Linked DNA regions of Homo sapiens. The protein of the gene in region 1 purifies or fractionates together with the protein of each later gene. This does not show direct contact. Each region holds a gene or a part of one and is shown in the gene's direction. Other genes may lie near its edges. The genes, in order: KIF12 and MMADHC.

The links.
Region 2: the proteins of KIF12 (region 1) and MMADHC purify together in Homo sapiens (affinity purification with mass spectrometry; 2 studies listed by BioGRID and IntAct, with this or other methods). This does not show direct contact.

What each region holds. Positions count from the first base shown.
Region 1 is NC_000009.12:114,097,166-114,101,080, reverse strand, and holds the start of KIF12 (kinesin-like protein KIF12), read left to right. Parts: upstream 1-1,788; 5' UTR 1,789-1,804; coding exon 1,805-1,830; exon of another isoform or gene 1,831-1,911; coding exon 1,912-1,977; exon of another isoform or gene 1,978-2,067; coding exon 2,068-2,146; intron 2,147-2,619; exon of another isoform or gene 2,620-2,651; coding exon 2,652-2,779; intron 2,780-2,890; coding exon 2,891-2,966; intron 2,967-3,339; coding exon 3,340-3,474; intron 3,475-3,644; coding exon 3,645-3,780; intron 3,781-3,915.
Region 2 is NC_000002.12:149,580,963-149,584,877, reverse strand, and holds part of MMADHC (cobalamin trafficking protein CblD), read left to right. Parts: intron 1-2,606; coding exon 2,607-2,751; intron 2,752-3,915. UniProt on the Homo sapiens protein: Involved in cobalamin metabolism and trafficking. Plays a role in regulating the biosynthesis and the proportion of two coenzymes, methylcob(III)alamin (MeCbl) and 5'-deoxyadenosylcobalamin (AdoCbl). Promotes oxidation of cob(II)alamin bound to MMACHC.

The sequences.
Region 1 (3,915 bases):
AAGGAGCACCTTGTTCATTTACTGGGTTTACTCCTGACAAAAGCAACTTGCCATAGCAAGCAGCATCAGGATGTACAGCTCATAGTTCTGGGTTTAAACTCTCAGTTCTGCCATTTGTTGTTTTCTCCTTAGATAACTTTCCCTGCCTTTCGCTGTTTAGTTCAGTTTTTTTTCCTCTGAAAAACAGGGATAGTAATTTTTGTCTTATCCACCTCAAGGACTCAAAAAATAGATTAAGGAACTTCAGAGTTGAAAGGGAACTTAGAGATCATCTAGGAATTTTTATTTTTGTTTTTAGGTAATTATTTACAACTTTCACTTTCAATGACACATCTCATTGAAATCTCAGAACAACTATGTCAAATAGGAGAGAAGTCATTAATCTCTTTTTACAGGAAGGAAACAAGAGAAGCCAAGACTGTGGCAAGTTAGTGGCAGAGCTGGGGGCAGTGGTTATTAGTTCTACAGAACTTTCCCTGTGGCCCCTGCTAGAGGGTCCTATAACCAAAAGGTCAAATGGCTCTTTCTTATACATCTCCATTGCCTGGGGAGCTCACTGCCATCCAAGACAGCCCATTCTCCAGCAGGGTGGCTTTGATAGTTGGCTGTAATTTGTGGTGGTATAGAATGTGTCACATTGAGAAAAAGTGATTTTTAGGGCTTTCACCCTAATGTGTGTTTGGGGGCCGGAGAGTTTGCAGAAATATTCAGAGAACATACAAAGACAGCCAGAATGACAATAATAATAACAATGCCAACCTGATGGTGTCACATCCCTGTTTATAACCCTTCAATGGCTTCCTGGTTCCCTGAAGAGTGAGTCCAGACTCCTTGATGTGCCCACCATAAGCTAGATCCAGCCTCAAACTACCTCTCCATGCCACACTCATCTCCCCACCCCACCCTGGCCATCCTGACTCCTGTTTGCTTTGCCTGGAATACCCTCACCTCCTCCCCACCCCCACTGGCTCCTACAGGCCTCTGTACTCCCCCTAAAGGCCCTACACGCTGCTGGGTTGTACTTATCCATCTCCCCAGACACACTGTGAGCTGGGAAGGGTCAGGGGCTGCATGGGGTTCCTCTGCCCTGGTGCCCAGCATGGAGACTGGTACAGAATAAGTGATTGCCCCATCCCTGCACATTCACAGACATCTCTGCTGTTCTCATAAGCCAGACCAGGAGAGGGTTAAACAATCATGCTGGCCTAGGATTAACTTTGGCATTAGAGAGGCAGGTGCCCCAGTGTTTTACCAGATGCTTGGAAACCTGTTCTCAGGTCAGCTCAGAGATTCAATCCAGCCAGGTCGTCCCTAGAGCTGACTGAGACCTGTGCCACTCCTTGGGCCCTGAGCTGAGCTGCTGGGGGTGGGAGTGGGGGGTATGTGGAGAGGGTGGGAAAAGCTTGGTCCTGTGCAGGCTAGCTCTGTGGCCTTGGTTGAGTCCTTCCTATCTGCTTAGGTATCCCCAACTGGGCACAAAGGAGGCCGGTCTGGGTGGTCCCACGGGTTCCTCTTGTGAGGACTGGCCAAGAGCAAGGGATCCTCAGACTCCAGAACCCCCTAGCTAGGGGTCCCCTAGCTTGGGAGAGACTTTCTCCACCGCAGGGGTGAGGAAGGGTAAATCTTTAACGAGCTAGCCCTGGGCAGCTGGAGTCTTTCCGGATGGATGGCTGCCTGGGATGGGGGATGGGGTGGGAATGCAAGATGTGTGTAGACAGTCCCAGTGTTGTGGAGAAGGGAGGGTATTGGTGGGGGGTAAATAAAGGAGACGCGGGCGGAGCTAACTCCGTGTGCAGAGCAGGACATGGAAGAACGCGGGTCACCCGACGGGTAAGCAGATCTTCAGACAGGTTCGAGGAGTCCTGAACAGCCGCTAGGTGCAGGTATGATAAGTCGCATTGCTGCCCACAGGGATCTCGCGCGGAGCCTGGAGCAAGGGCCAGAGGGGCCGGAAACGCCCATCCAGGTGGTGCTCAGGTGGGTATAAATTGGCTAGGAGGCACCTGGGCGAGACAAGGATCGAGGAAGACATCAGGATGTACCATCTGCCCTTCTGTCGGACCCCAGGGTACGTCCCATGAGCGCGGCCGAGCTGCGTCGAGGGCAGCAGAGCGTGCTGCACTGCTCAGGGACCCGGACTCTGCAGGTGAGGAACCCCTCTCTCTATCTCCCCAATAAAAAATCCCGGGGACGCCAGATCCCTTCCCCCAGGCAACTTTGCCCTAGGCCCCGCGCTCCCCCGGAGTGGTCCTCTCCCAGGTGCCCCGCCCTCCCCAGAGTGCCCCTCCCTTCCAGGATGCCCAGCCCTCCGCCAGGGTGCGCCGCGCCAACCCCTGCGAGTGCCCCGCCCCTTCTGAGTGCCCGCCCACCCAAGGTGCCCGCCCCCCCCAGAATGCCCCGCCCCTCCAGGGTGTCCTACCCTCCCCAGAATGCCCCGGCCCTAGTGAGTGTCCCCCACCCCACCCCCAACCCAGGGTGCTCGCCCACCGAGTGCCTCACCGAGCGCCCTACCCTTCTCCAGGGTGCCCCGCCCTCCTCCAGAGTGCCCCGCCCTCCTCCCGCGTGCCCCGCCCTCCTCCACGGTGCCCCGCCCCTCCAGGGTGCCCCGCCCTCCTCCAGAGTGCCCCGCTCCTCCGCCCCACCCGCGCCAGGTGAGTCCTCCAGGCGGGGGTCCAGAAGTGGCGTTCCGCTTCGGTGCGGTGCTAGACGCGGCGCGCACGCAGGAGGACGTGTTCCGGGCGTGCGGCGTGCGGCGCCTGGGGGAGCTGGCGCTGCGCGGGTGAGTGAAGCTTCGCCTCCGCTCCGCGCCGGGCCTGGCGGGGCCCCGAAGCACCCCCAGCCCCCACCCCGGGTAGCCGCCGGAGTCCAGCCACGCCCTTGCCGCCCGCAGTTTCTCCTGCACTGTTTTCACCTTTGGCCAGACGGGCTCTGGGAAGACCTACACCCTGACTGGACCCCCTCCCCAGGTGAGCGAGCGCCGGCGGCGCCCCCGCGGGGCGGGGCTGGGTGGGCTGGAAGCCCTGGGGAGCCGCAGGCGGCGCAGACTCCCAGAGGGAAGGGGCTGGGACGACGCCGCCTGACCCGCTTGTTTGCAGACGAGGACGCTGAGGACCAAAGAGAAGGGACTTGCCCAATTTGGAGCATTTGGGCTTCAACTTTGGCCCCTTCCTAGCTCTCAGTTTTCTCATCTGTAAAATGGAAGTGACAGTACCGACTATGAATTAAATGAGCCATTGTTTGGGAACTTGGCACGTTTCCCGGCGCACGGTATCATACATGCGCTACAGAGGGTAGTTATTACTGTGGAGATGACGATGGCTCAGCTGGTTTTGCCCCTAGGGGGAGGGGGTGCCTGTACCCCCCAGCCTGGCTGGCATCATGCAGAGGACCTTCGCCTGGCTGTTGGACCGCGTGCAGCACCTGGGTGCCCCTGTCACCCTTCGCGCCTCTTATCTGGAGATCTACAATGAGCAGGTAAGGGAATGAGAGGAATAGAAAGACAGCCCATGAGGAAACGGAGCGCTTCTTTCCAGGGAGCCTGGATCAAAGGACAGAAGAGGCGGTGGGGACTGTTGTCAGTAAGATCTGGGGATGGGTGGACTCAGAAAGATCCCCTTCCCTCACCCTCCTCCCTCCCCTCCCAGGTTCGGGACTTGCTGAGCCTGGGGTCTCCCCGGCCCCTCCCTGTTCGCTGGAACAAGACTCGGGGCTTCTATGTGGAGCAGCTGCGGGTGGTGGAATTTGGGAGTCTGGAGGCCCTGATGGAACTTTTGCAAACGGGTGTGTGCTGACAGCGGGGAGTTTTGCGGGTAGGGGTGCCCATTCCTCAGTTGTTCACTGAGTGTGGACTTGGGGCCCAGACTGCAGCTGCAGCTTCAGAAATGATTCCTGGGGGAGGTGGGGAAGGACCAGTAA
Region 2 (3,915 bases), on another chromosome or scaffold:
TTTTAGTAGAAACGGGGTTTCACCATGTTGGCCAGGCTAGACCTCAGGTAATCCACCCACCTTCGCCTCCCTAAGTGCTGGGATTACAGGCATGAGCCACTGCACCCAGCCAAGATTTGAGAATCTCACAGGTTAACGGGTAAGGTTTGAAACAGATTAGTACTATCATCAACTGTCGCTTTCAGTGGGCAATTTAGATACTGGTTTATTTTGCTATTAAAATGAAATTTGGTAATTGGATTTTCTTAGGCTAGGAACAAAACTCATATTTTATTATATAACTTTTGTTAAAAGTTCTATCACCAAGAAAAGAATGTCAAAATATAATCTAATGGCCTTGATAGACAGGCTAAAATAATAAATAATAGGCGATTTTTGAAATAATTTGGATGATCTTCCTCCTCCTTCTGTTTTTTGCTTGTGAAACGATGTGAATGATCGCAGATTGTAGTTTAACCATGCTGAAACTAGTTCTAATAACAGTATATAGAATTGTTATGAAAATTAAATAAAACAATGTATATGTACAGCACTTACTATAGAACTTGGACCCATAGTGTCCAACATTGATTATTACTATTACATGCTCTCAAATATTGGCCCCTTCAGATAATCTTTTATTTTGCTGCTGCTTATTTTGAGCCCTTGCTGAAAATATTTTTGGAATTTGAAATTTTAGATTCCTTTAGATCCTGAGGCATTCTCTTAAATATCCTTAGTTGTAAAGGTAAATTTGTATTATATAAACACCCAAAAGTCTGAGTTTGTTTAGTAAGTAAAAAGCCAAATAATTACCATTTTTGTTTCTTTGGGCAAGTTGGGTACAGACCCCAAGAGAGGCAGCCTAAATTTTCAGGTTGACAGAATGCTTTGGAGACACGTATCACAAAGGAGGTTATATTTATCCAGGTCTTAAAGAAAAAGTAAGAATTTGCTAGAATTTTCTAGAACGATAAGGAAACAGTATCTTTTAGCAGAAGAATTCTTATGGCAGTATAAAGAATGAAGAGAAATGGGAAATGTTGGGGAGATATTTTTATGTAATTGAAAAGTAGAGTAAGGGAAGGGAGGGTAAATTTGTAGGAAATTATGTCAGAAAGGCAAAAAGACCAGTTAAGATGCACTCATAGTGACAAAGGAGGAAGGAAAAAATAGGTTGGATATTAGAATACTGTACTTTGTGAAAAGGAAATAGAATAATTCTCAGGTGTCAGATGGCTGGATTTTTCCAACATCCTGGTAACTGATTTTCACACCACCTCTCTACTCCTCCTCCAGTCCATTTTTTATACTGCCCTTAGTGGTACATTTCTTAAAACAGCCTTTGTTTTTGTCAGTTTGCTCTGACTCTTTCCTGCCTACAAATTAAAATTCCGACTTACTATCTTGATGTAACAAGCCCTTTACCATCTGTGTCAAATATACAGTCTTTTATAGTTGCCCATAAGTTCAATTTCAAACCTTTTTTTAATTGCATTCTTATACCTACCCTCACTGAATTTGTCACTCTTTGAAATATGTCTTTATTCCTTTGTTCCTGAAAGTCACTCATTGAAATGCACCTTTTCCCAAGCAAATTTTTACTGTATTCAAAATTTAGTATATCCTCCATGAAATTTATTACCTTTTCTCCCAAGGATTTCTTAACAATTATTCAGATCTTTTCATAGCATTTCACAGATGATTTGATATTTGTTTTTACATCTTTTTCACTAAACTGAGAGTTGCCAATGTCTGTGTGTATGTGTGTTTTTAATACAAATATCCGGATAGTGCATATTTTAGGCTTTGTGGGCCACAGAATATCTCTTGTAACTACTTAACTCTGCCATTGTCGTGGGAAAGTGACCATAGGCAGTACATAAATTAGTATGTCTATGTTACAGTAAAACTTTATTTACCAAAACAGTGGGCTGTATTGGGAAATCGTTCGCCAATCCCTGCATTAAATTGTTCTGACCCAAGTACTTTGTTAAAAAATTTATGAATGAAAGATTGTTAAAAAATTTATGAATGAAAGATATTTACACATTCATCCATTGTAATACATGACCTCACTGTCTAGTAAGTGAACATATAAGCAGAAAAAAATATACCACAAAGATACGTGCTGAAATGGAGAAAAGCAGACATTGCCATGAAACCACAATGAAAGGACAGTATGGGAGAGAATTAGCGCAATTTATAGCAGTAAAAGAAGAGAGAAAAGTTCGAAAGTAACAGATTTTGGTCCAAAGAGATGTCTTGAGAGTTCTTTATTGAGGATAGAAGAATCTTGTTAGTTGTGCTACCTTTTTAGTGTTGTGTCTAAATAAGACAACTTTTAGATGTCTATTCTCTCATGTGTGGCACTCTTGAATTCTAGCCTTTATTGAAAAGTACATAGGCTTTTACCCAAACTAACTTATTACTTGTTTTTTTAATTTTTATTTTTATTTTTAAAATTACAAATATATATAATGCTTTCATATAGTAGGTGTTCAGTAAAAGTAGAATAAATGTTGGTTTTAAAAGAACCTTGCAGTGTGAAGATTTGCCAGAGATTGTCTATGTAAGTATAACATTTATATTCAGAACAAATAGTTTTAATTTTGTGTCATTTCTAGGTGCTTTGTAACAGAGCCAGACTGGTTTCCTATCTCCCAGGATTTTGCTCTTTAGTTAAAAGGGTTGTCAATCCCAAAGCCTTTTCGACTGCAGGATCATCAGGTTCGGATGAGTCTCATGTGGCTGCTGCACCTCCAGATATATGTAAGTGAAAGTTGTTACTGCTTTACTTATAATTGTTTCAAAACATTTTTAGTTGTATTTTCCTCTAATATTTCTTCTTAAGGCTTAATGGATTTTTCTAAAGTTGTGTTTGTTCAGTTGAAAATGAATCACAGCTCTGCCTAAATATATTTATGTCAGAAAGCTACAGTATTGAAAAAAGAGTAAGTACTGGTTTCTAAAGCTTACTTCTTAAACTTTTCTTTCTGTCTTCAAACATAGAGTCTTCCCTGAAACAAATCTCCTTTTGGTCCTGTTAAACCATATTATTATTTCTTCCCATTCTTTGCTAGATTTCATAAATGTACCTTGTACTTTTTATGTGTTAGTGTTTATTGAACTTACCTGCTTTCTACAAAGTCTGTTTCTTCTAACCTGTTTGGTACACCACTACCATGCTAATCATTCTAAATTATTTTAACCATGTCCCTTTCTTGAAAAACCTGTTATCTTTCATTGCTTTCAGCAGTAGTTCCCAGACTACCTTCAAGCCATGAAGCTTTGTTCAAGGTTAAAAAGAAAAAGTGGGGGTAGGGGGATAGTCTCTGTGGTAGGTAAGTTTGAGAAATGCTACATGCCATATTCCTGCCTTGGAGGCTTATAAGGCACACTAAAATATTAAAGACTCTTAGAAACTTAACCTAATGTGTCCTAAAGATATTGGACATGGAATCCTTTTTTCATGGCACACATTACTTACAACGTAATTTAAGTTCACTTGAGCATTCAGAGCCTTCCATCCTGCCCAAGTTTTCTAACTCTCTGACTACTCCCCAATTTACATCACCTAAAGACTAACCATATATTTATAATAAATGAAAGATTTTGCCATTCAAATTATATAAGATGTTAGTATCTGGAATATATAAAGAATTTATAATAGATCAATAGGAAAAGATAACCCAACAGAAAATCAGAAAACAAAAGGACATGAATAGGCCTTTCACAGAAAACAAAACCTAAAATGACCAGTAAACATATGGTCAAATCCACTGCCCAAATCTACTATTAATATGGGATGCTTGTTTTCTGTAAAGAGAATCTAGGGATTGTTAGACTTTTAAAAACCATCTTGTTCAAAAATAGCTAACAGGTTTTCTCTTGGGAAGTGACTTGAGTAGTCATTAGTGGCTGTCTAGATAGAGC